Regions from separate parts of the Homo sapiens genome. Here region 2 is linked to region 1. Evidence: fine-mapped expression QTL. A gene starts in region 1. The other region holds a variant in brackets. All regions are shown on one strand. Distances are between the middles of the regions.

Evidence for each region.
Region 2: its variant is fine-mapped to the expression of SLC25A12 in amygdala (GTEx, PIP 0.99).

The regions. Positions count from the first base shown.
Region 1 is chr2:171,891,654-171,897,037 of GRCh38, reverse strand. It overlaps SLC25A12 (solute carrier family 25 member 12), which reads left to right and starts at 2,794. Exons shown (of 18, transcript NM_003705.5): 1 at 2,794-2,835; 2 at 3,780-3,833. The coding sequence starts at 2,824. RefSeq lists enhancers at 2,015-2,581, 2,582-3,148 and a silencer at 2,552-2,871.
Region 2 is chr2:172,033,745-172,039,128 of GRCh38, reverse strand. All of the region lies in intron 1 of METAP1D (methionyl aminopeptidase type 1D, mitochondrial), which reads right to left. Among named protein-coding and RNA genes, the nearest start is that of METAP1D, 36 kb to the right of the region's middle. The variant C/T (reference allele first, on the strand shown) is at 2,939.

The DNA of each region.
Region 1 (5,384 bases):
TCAGGCTGGAGTGCAATGGCATGATCTCGGCTCACCACAACCACCACCTCCCAGGTTCAAGCAATTCTCCTGCCTCAGCCTCCCGAGTAGCTGGGATTACAGGCATGAGCCTGTAATTTTTTTTTTTTTTTTTTTTAGTAGAGATGGAGTCTCTTCCTTGTTAGTCAGGCTGGTCTTGAACTCCCGACCTCAGGTGATCCACCCACCTCTGCCTCCCAAAGTGCTGGAATTACAGGCATAAGCCACTGTGCCCGGGCTTTTTTTTTTTTTTTTTTCCCAGAGACAGAGTCTCGCTCTGTTGCCCAGGCTGGAGTGCAGTGGCACAATCTCAGCTCACTTCAACCTCCACCTCCCGGGTTCTAGCAATTCTCCTGTCTCAGCCTCCCGAGTGGCTGGGACTACAGGTGCACACCACCACACCTGGCTAACTTTTTTGTATTTTAGTAGAGACAGGGTTCACTGTGTTGCCCAGGCTGGTCTTGAACTCCTGAGCTCAGGCAATCCACCCGCCTTGGCCTCCCAAAGCACTAGGATTACACGTGTGAGCCACCGTGCCTGGCCTCAAGAGATTCTTCTGTCTCAGCCTCCTGAGTAGCTGGGACTACAGGTGCACGCCACCACACCCAGCTAATTTTTGTATTTTTGTAGAGAGGGGGTTTCACCATATTGGACAGGCTGGTCTTGAACTCCTGACCTTGTGATCCACCCGCCTTGGCCTCCCAAAGTGCTGGGATTACAGGTGTGAGCCACTGCACCCGGCTGCAACACATGTTTTACACAAACGCAAGGCACTCAATAAATGTTTATTAACTAAAATTTGGCTCCTTTTAAATCATGAAATTAGAGTGTTTGAAGAAGCATTAAAGCTCATCTAGTTCAATCCTCCATCTGATTATATAGTGTCCTACTAAATACCAGGTTATACATAATTAGTATAGTGATAGAGTACTCACAGCCATATATGTCTAGAGCAGCTCATTCCATGAATTCCTTCCAAAATTCACTGAAAAGAAAACTGTTTGTTATTGCTTCACCAAGGGAATAAAGAAGGCTGTGGTCCAAAAATAAGATCACCATCATCTCCACTGCATAATTTATAGGATTTAGAGTCAGGCTGTGAGGAAGACAGTTCAGGAAAAGACATAACTGCAGGAGTACAACTATTTCTTCTGATTTTTGATACCCCTCTCTTCCATTTCCACCAAAACGAGAATTTATTTCAATGACAGCAAATGTTCATATAGGGAGAATAGTTGTACAGTATAGAGAAGCCCTAAAGTGTGTCATTTATCTAGTGTCTAATTATAAGTGGCTTGGGCGAAACCCCATAGCTACTAAAAATACAAAATTAGCCAGGCATGGTGGCGTGCACCTGTAATCCCAGCTACTTGGGAGGCTGAGGCAGGAGAATTGCTTGAACCCAGGAGGCAGAGGTTGCAGTGAGCCAAGATGGCGCCACTGCACTCCAGCCTGGGCGATAGAGCGAGACTCCGTCTCAAAAAATTAAAAATGAAAACATACACAGGGTCGGGCGCGGTGGCTCACGCCTGTAATCCCAGCACTTTGGGAAGCCGAGGTGGGCGGATCACCAGAGGTCAGAAGTTTGAGACAAACCTGGCCAACATAGTGAAACCCTGTCTCTACTAAAAATACAAAAAATTAACTGGGCATTGCGGCGGGTGCCTGTAATCCCAGCTACTCGGGAGGCCAAGGCAAGAGAATCTCTTGAACCTGGGAGGTGGACGTTGCAGTGAGTCAAGATGGTGCCACTGCACTCCAGCCTGGGCGACAGAGCGAGACTCAGTCTCAACACACACACACACAGACACACATACACACAATACACATGTGATTGGGGTTGTGGAGAAGCATTGACCATCTGTAAGCCCCTAGAGGGTGGGGGCTATAGGTTATTTGCGTTTTTTACAAGCAGGACCATGTCAGGCATATAATGGATGCCCATACATGTTTGAATCAATATGTAGCCTAATACAGTGATATTGGCAAGACGGGTTTAGAAACATTGTTTTGGTTCAAGATAGAGTTACTGCTTCTTCTACTTCTTAGGTAGGGCTAGAAATCGAATGGAGAATTACTTTCTGTTCATGTATGGGCAAGCGATTCATTGCCAGCCCTGTCAAAGACACATAGAGTTTTTTTTCTCATTGCACACAGGATTTGGGTGATTAGGAAAGTGGAGCGAGTCTACTAATAAACCGTTGTAATAGCACGCAAAGCAAAAATAAATTCAGCGTATTCGTCCCATGCCAATTTAGGAGCATATTTCTCAAATTATGTTTACGTAGGTTTTCCCTAGAGTGAGTGGTTCCCAATCTTGTTTTGTCGGTATTTGCCATCAGTTGTCATTAATTCATTGTTATTAATGGGAAGTGCTCTTTGATCCGTCGGAACCTTGCTCAGTATAGGCCCCAAATGTTCCTTTAAGCCTCGGGGAAAACGACTTTGGCTGGTCGGTGCCCAAAGCCACACCCACTAAGAGGCCTTAGGAAACCTGGGGCTTTCCTGGCGGCGACCTAGCTGTGGCAACCACGCGGCGCGTCGGGATCCCATGGGTCGCGCTTGTTTTCCCCGTGGGAGGCGCGTCCCCCTCCTCCGCCCGGCCGGCCGGCCCTGGACCAGCTGCCTTTCTGGCCGGGACGCCGGGCCCCTTTCCGCACGCGGCGCGCCCCGAGTTCATTTGCATAGGGACGCGCGCGGCGCCGGCGAGAGGGAGGGCGGGCGCGGCCGGGAAGACGGCGCGCGCGCGCCCTGACAGCTCGGCCCTGCTCGCTCACTCGCTCGTCCCCGGCTTCCGAGCACAGCATGGCGGTCAAGGTGACTCCAACTCTCTGCTGCTGCTTTTATTGCATAAGAGACATTCCGAGCGCCCTGCCTGCAGCCCCCCACTGCTTCCCATTTTATTCATTGTCTAGGTCTTAGATAGCTTGTCCTGGGGCTCCGGCTTGCTGCGGGGAGAGCTGTGCGGGGCTTGGACCGGAGGAGGGGATGCCCGGCTGGGGGAGGGGAAGGAGGAGGGATTGTGAGTTGAAGGGGCTTGTACGGTAACACGGGTCAGTGAAGGAAGAGTAATGTCCTGTCCTAGGTGCATGGGATTGTGAGTCCGGAGTTGGAGGGCATCAGAAAGGGTGTGGGAGGAAGTGGCAAGTAAAGCTGGGGATACCTAGGGTATCAGTGAATTGCGGTGGGGGAGGGAGTAAGTATTGAGTAATTTGGGGCCTCAATAAGGCCGAGGGCAGTGGTTGGCTTTTGCGTTGCAGATTGCAGGGTATGGAAAGTATTTGTATTTGTGGCAGCTCTCATATTTTAGGTTGGATGGGGAGAGGGACGCGGAGATAATTACATGTTGGGTTTGCTTTTTATGGAGAAAGGCTGCTAGGCCAAGTGATTAATTTGGGTGATTTAACTTTCCTGTTGATCTACTCTTGTTAGCTTCTTGATTTGAAGGTGGGTGGTTACTACTGTGTTGCTAGTAGATGTGGAATAAAGTAAAAGATCCTCATTGCCTTCCCTTTCCAGTCCAGAGGAAGCACTGTCCGATAGCTTTGCTGTATCTTAGGCTATTCGCACCTGTTTTTCTGCCCTCTAGTCACAGTTATCCAGTTTGACAGTTCTTATCAGCAATTAGGGCTTTTAGTTTGTTTTAAACTAAATGATAAAAGATAGGAGCATTGATTGTTAGCCATGTGACCTCTAATCTGAAGAGATTGTGTGGTCTCTAGTGAAGCATTAACTGGCTTTTTTTTCTTTTTTGCTTACAGGTGCAGACAACTAAGCGAGGGGATCCTCATGAGTTAAGAAACATATTTCTACAGGTAAATTGGCTTGCATAGTGTGCCTTTCATTGCAAAAACAAAAAACGTACATGTCCTTAGTCCTATTCATGCCTTAACTTTGAGGAATGTTCAGTTTTCATGTATTCTTTCAAACATGACCGGACAATATAGCTTATACTTCTCTTAATAAGGTTTGATTTAAGGCCTTCTTTTAATTAAGGGTCGATAAAAGGTTTTCCTCAAGTTACTGCTTTTTTTTTTACATGACTTAAGATATATATTTTGAAAAAAAATTTCCAGCTTAAGCACAGAGACCAAGATAAAATTTCAAAATGTATTGGCATTCTTGTATAGTTAATAGGTATGATGACTAAAATTCTCTTCCTTGAAAGTTGCATGTTTACAAAGTTTTCCTACTTATGAGCTATCCTCCATGTAATTTGTTACAGAGATAAGAATATTATAGCTATTCTTAATTTGTGTGTCTTACTTACATTGTATCCTTAAGCCTTGGGGATTTTACCCCAAAATGTTACCTCTTAAGATTCTTGCAATGGTCTACCTTAACTTCTAAGCTTTTAGAATCAGTGACTTGGCTGTAGACTTAAAAAGAAAAGAAAAAAGAAAAAAAAAAGGTTGGCTTAGTTTTTTGTTTTGCTTTCTTTTCTTAAATTTCAAAAGTTTCCTATGCAGGAAATTGTACTTAAGAAGTAGATGTAGGCCGGGCGCGGTGGCTCACGCCTGTAATTCCAGTATTTTGGGAGGCCGAGGCGGGTGGACCATGAGGTCAGGAGATCGAGACCATCCTGGCTAACACGGTGAAACCCCGTCTCTACTAAAAATACAAAAAATTAGCCGGGCGTGGTGGTGGGCGCCTGTAGTCCCAGCTACTCGGGAGGCTGAGGCAGGAGAATGGCGTTAACCCGGGAAGCGGAGCTTGCAGTGAGTCGAGATCGTGCCACTGCACTCCAGCCTGGGGACAGAGAGACACTGTCTCAAAAAAAAAAAAAAGTAGATGTAAAGGGAGGCAAGCTAAGGTGTTTCACCAAATATTGCATTTCTCTCTGAAATCTTTTGAGAACTTTCTATTCTGGACCTGGGTTCTTATGAAGACACTTTGACCTTGGGCAGGTCCCTGCTGTGTATTATTTTCCTCTGTGAAATGAGAGGTGATCTCCAAGGTTCCTTCCCATTCCAAAAGTCTATGAGTCTATTTTAGGAACAGATTCTAACATATGCTGATGAGCCTGGAATAGATGACATTTTTATTTGAGATATGTGGTTTGCTTAAGCTATTGTTGGGTAAGACGCTGCGTAGTTGAGCATACATATGTGTAGTTTATGAAAAATAATTTGTGAAAATGGGAATCTTAAAGGTCATAATATCTGATAAGGGAAGTATTTTTTTCCAGAACAGAAGTAATTATAATAACAGAAATGGTCCATTTATGACTTGAAACCTTTATTCCTTGCAGGCATTCTTGAAAATAGCCAAAAATATATCGGTATTCACCATACCATGTGATTATAGTCAATTGTTTTGTGAAGAGTTCATGTGATATAGTTAATTTTATGTTCTAGACTAAGTAG
Region 2 (5,384 bases), 140 kb before region 1:
CTTAGGTGGCAAGTAGATTTTTGCAGAATGGTATGGGAACCCTCCTTAGGTAGGCATCTCAGGGATAATATATAAAATAGGAAGGCTATAAATCCTGTAAAGGAGGTAGTAGTGGACTAAAATGGACAGAATTTATACTTATAACTAATGTTTCATCACTACCAAATCCACCCTGCTCCCAACTCCATTGGCGTGACTAGATGATGCTGACTTTAATGAGTAATCTGAAACACTGGCAATATTTGGCTTTGGTGATGGCTAACTTCAGACCTCATAAATATTATGTAACCCTAGTCTTTTTGCCTCTGGCCAACCAGACTGACTGCATAAATGGCAAACTGACATTGAGAATTTATGAGCTCTGCTGCATTAGTAATGCACATTTCCTTTTGAATTATTCTAGCCTGTAGCCTGAAGCAGATTATAATTATCATTCCTTTTGCCGCACAAGTCTGAAGATCTACAAGTGGTTCAGGTAGCTACATGAATATATTTCAATGTTTTAGGAGGGTGGGTAAATAAAAACCCATATGTAACAAATGAAAAACAGATGCATTTATATAATGCTACAATTTAAAAAATATCCTAGCTAATTAAAATTTGGTCTCGGTCACAGTAAATCCATAGAAAATGTTTCTCTATCTTACTGAGATGTTTTTCTCTTTACCGTCAAAAAATTGGTGATGGTATTGTTCAGTTTACTTGGAGCAGAGTGTTCAGGTAGTCAATGATCTAAGCTATGGATAGTTAGCTCTACACTAAGATAAATACGTGGTCTTAGCTGTTTGGAATGCATTTTCCGACATAAACAATGTGGCTAAGTTCTCAGCTAGCCCAGTAGCTCATAAGACAAATAAAATGCTACACAATTGCAATGAAAACAAAAAACTAGGAAACAATACAGCTGTAAGCATATATTTTGGCCACATTATAGGTTTTTTGAGCTGGCCTGGGAATGTTGCTGCCATTTACAACATGGTTTCTAAAGGATAACATATTCCACATTTTTGGACAATTAAGGAAATTGAAACGTCCACTTTACTGCTTCCTACCACATATTCTCGGCCATTTCCACTCAAACCCTAAGTGGCAGAAGATGAAGGCTGAGTACCCCCAGGAAAATCTAGAGAGGAGAAGAGAGGGCCAAGTCCTGTCCCTTCCTGTAATAGCTGTACCAGCCCCAGAGCCAGGATTCTCATGCTGCTTCAGCTTCTTTCAACTTCTACAACAAGTGAAAGGAAGTAAGTCTCTGTCTTGAAGTTCAAGCAACCCTGCTTTCCTAACTGTTAGCACCAGAAACAACATGTCAAGCTCAAATACAGCCACCCGGAGACAAAACATGGTGGCTCTGGAGGACTAATGTCACTAACCAGAACTCACCAACGGGGTAGGAGGTCTAGATATTAAGTGTTCAGAACCCAGATGGAACCAGTGAAGCTCAACTGTTGAGCTTCAGCTCTGGCTCTATGATTTACTAGCTTACAATCTTCAGCAAGTTACTTAACCATTTAATGCCTCAGTTTCTTCATCTGTTAAAAAATGGGGAAATAAAAAACTGTTGTAAAGATTAAATGAGTTTACATGTCTTAAGAGTTCATTAGCACAGCGCCTGGCATGTAGCAATTGATAAATTGAGCTATCACTCATAGGTTTAATATCACAAGTGAAAAAGGTACAAAAATGCTCTCTCCTTTTTTAAAGCTTTACTATTTTTTTTTCTGGTCTCTAGCGTAGCAGTTGTTAGGTAGGAAGACGTAATTTAGCAAGTAGATATCGATGACCAGAAAGAGTCTCTGTACCTCTGAAATATTCACACACACACACACACACACACCCCAAGTAAAACCTAGACTTTTTTTTTTTCTTGAGATGGAGTTTCCCTCTTGTTGCCCAGGCTGGAGTGCAACGGCACGATTTTGGCTTACAGCAACCTCCGCCTCCCGGGTTCAAGCGATTCTCCTGTCTCAGCCTCCCAAGCAGCTGGGATTATAGGTATGCACCACCATGCCCAGCTAATGTTTTTGTATTTTTAGTAGAGACAGGGTTTCTCCATGTTGGTCAGGCTGGTCTTGAACTCCCGACCTCAAGTGATCCGCCCACCTTGGCCTACCAAAGTGCTGGAATTACAGGCGTGAGCCACCGCCCGCAGCCATAAAACCTAGACTTTAACATTACAAGTACATGTAAGTAATAGACAACAGTAAACTTATCTATGTTGTTTTACTAATAATATTTTAAAATAAAGCATTTAAAAGTCTGACAATGCCAAGTACAGGTTGAAGATGTGGGAAAACAAGATCTCTCGAATACTGCTGGAGAGTCAACTGGTACAACCACCTTGGAAAACTGCCTGTCAATTATGAAGTCACTAATTCAATCCTAGGTATACACATAAAAGAAATGCATACAGAAGTGCATCCAAAAGACATACTCAGACTGTTTGTAATAGAAAAAGGTGGAAACGGGCCGGGTGCGGTGGCTCACGCCTGTAATCTCGGTACTTTGGGAGGCCGAGACAGGCGGATCACGAGGTCAGGAGATCGAGACCATCCTGGCTAACACTGTGAAACCCCGTCTCTACTAAAAATACAAAAAATTAGCCGGGCGTGGTGGCAGGCGCCTGTAGTCCCTGCTACTTGGGAGGTTGAGGCAGGAGAATGGCGTGAACCCGGAAGGCGGAGCTTGCATTGAGCCAAGATCACGCCACTGCACTTCAGCCTGGGCGACAAAAAAAAAAAGAAAAAGGTGGAAACAACCCAGATGTCCATCAACTACAGAATAAATTACAGTAAATTCTTTTTTTTTTTTTCTTGAGACAGAGTCTCGCTCTGTCGCCCAGGCTGGAGTGCAATGGCGCGATCTCGGCTCTCTGCAAGCTCCGCCTCCCGGGTTCACGCCATTCTCCTGCCTCAGCCTCCCAAGTAGCTGGGACTACAGG[C/T]ACCCGCCACCACGCCCAGCTAACTTTTTGTATTTTTAGTAGAGACGGGGTTTCACCGTGTTAGCCAGGATGGTCTTGATCTCCTGACCTAGTGATCCGCCCACCTTGGCCTCCCAAAGTGCTGGCATTACAGGCATGAACCATCATGCCCAGCCATAAATTCTTAAAACAGAAGACTATACAGCAAAAAAAATGAATTCACTACAGATACAATATAAATGGATCCTTAAAATATAAAAATCAGTCCCAGTGTGGTCTCTCACACCTGTAATCTTAGCACTTTGGGAGACAGAGGTGGGAGGACTGCTTGAGCCCAAGCATTCGAGATCAGCCTGGGCAACATAGGAAGACTCTGTCTCTAAAAAAAATTAAAAATTAGCCAGGCATGATGGCATGCATCTGTGGTCCCAGCTACTTGGGAGGTGGAGGTGGGAGGATCACTTGAGCCTGGTAGGTTGAGGATGCAGTGAGCTGTGATCATGCCACTGCATTCCAGCCTGGGTGACAAAGAAGACCCTGTCTCAAAACAAACAAACAAACAAAATCACACTGTTTAGGAATCTATACACAAGTGGTAAAACTATAAAGGTAAGCAAGAAAGTGAATACTACTAAAGTCAGGATAGTGGCTACCCAGGGGATGAAAGAGATTTGGACTGGGAAGAAGCATGCAGAGGTTTTCTGAGGTGCTGGTGATATTCTGATTTTTCTTAAAACACAGTACAGTAGGCCGGGGGTGGTGGCTCACACCTGTAATCCCAGCACTTTGGGAGGCGGAGGCGGTAGGATCACGAGGTCAGGAGATGGAGACCATCCTGGCTAATACGGTGAAACCCCATCTCTACTAAAAATACAAAAAGTTAGCCGGGCGTGGTGGCCGGCGCCTGCAGTCCCAGCTACTCGGGAGGCTGAGGCAGGAGAATGGCGTGAACCCGGGAGGCGGAGCTTGCAGTGAGCTGAGATCGGGCCACTGCACTCCAGCCTGGGTGACAGGGCGAGACTCCGTCTCAAAACAAACAAACAAACAAACAAACAAAAAAAAAACACAGTACAGTAGTTACATAGGTATTTGCTTCATAATCATTCATTAAATTGTATATTTCTTTTACACGTTTCTCTCTACATATTTCACAATAAAATGCTGGGAGTTAGGAAGGAAGAAATGAGGCCAGAATTAGAAAATAAAACAACAAAAAAAAAAAAAAGAAAAAAATTCTAACAATCAGGGTTTCTCTATATTTTGAAGGAATAAATTTAAAATCTTTATTGATGTGTTAAATTCAAGCAATTTCTTCCAATCAAGAAAAATAAGAAATCAGAAATAATTCACAATTCTTACTATACAGGGAAAACATTAATAGCACAGTTGTCTACACGACATTTAATTTACTAGGCCATGAGAAATTTATATTTGCAAATTTTTTAAAATGAAGTCTTATAATTACTCTATTACTACAAACTAATTGATAAAACCCTTGTTGGATACATAATTATATTCTTATTCCAGAGCTTTTTAGTTGATATAATCTATGTAGACAGCCATACTGCTTGTTGAAGCAGAAAAAGCTACTAAATTTTCTAAGCAGAAAACCTGGATCCTTTCAGGAACTTCATAATAATAAAACAGTTGATATATTTGTGGCAATTTACAAAGTAACATCATACATATTATTAAGTTTGGCACAACAACCCGGACCAGGTGGTAAACTGGGAAAATAACCTTGTACCTATTTTATAGGCAACGCCCTAACCAGAAATAACACACACACACACACACACACACACAAAAACTGAGACTTATGGAGGCTAATGAATTTGTCCACGATCACAAATTTACAAGTGGCAAATCTGGGATTTACCTAAGCCTATTTTAAAAACTTTTTATTATAGAAAATTTCAAAAACACACAAAAGTAGATTAGTGTAACAAATCCCCATGTATCTATCATTCAGCTTCAACAATGGCCAATAGATGGCCAATCTTGTTTCATCCATAACCATCATCCCTTCCCACTGGATAATTTTGAAGCCTATTCAGATATCATATAATTTCAACTGTAAATATTTCCATGTGTACATCCAAAAGATGAGGACTTTTGTTTTTTTTTTTTTTTTTGAGATGAAGTCTTGCTCTGTTGCCCAGACTGGAGTACAATGGCATGATCTCCACTCGCCGCAACCTCCGCCTCCTGGGTTCAAGTGATTTTCCTACCTCAGCCTCCCGAGTAGCCGGGATTACAGGCACGCACCACCACTGCCAGCTAATGTTTTGTATTTTTAGTTGAGACAGGGTTTCACCATGTTGGCCAGGCTGGTCCCAAATCCCTGACCTCGTGATCCCCCCCGCCTCGGCCTCCCAAAGTGCTGGAGGCCGTGAGCCACCATACCCGGCCTGTGATGAGAACTCTTTTTAATGGTTTAATAATATAATATTATACCTTTAGAAAT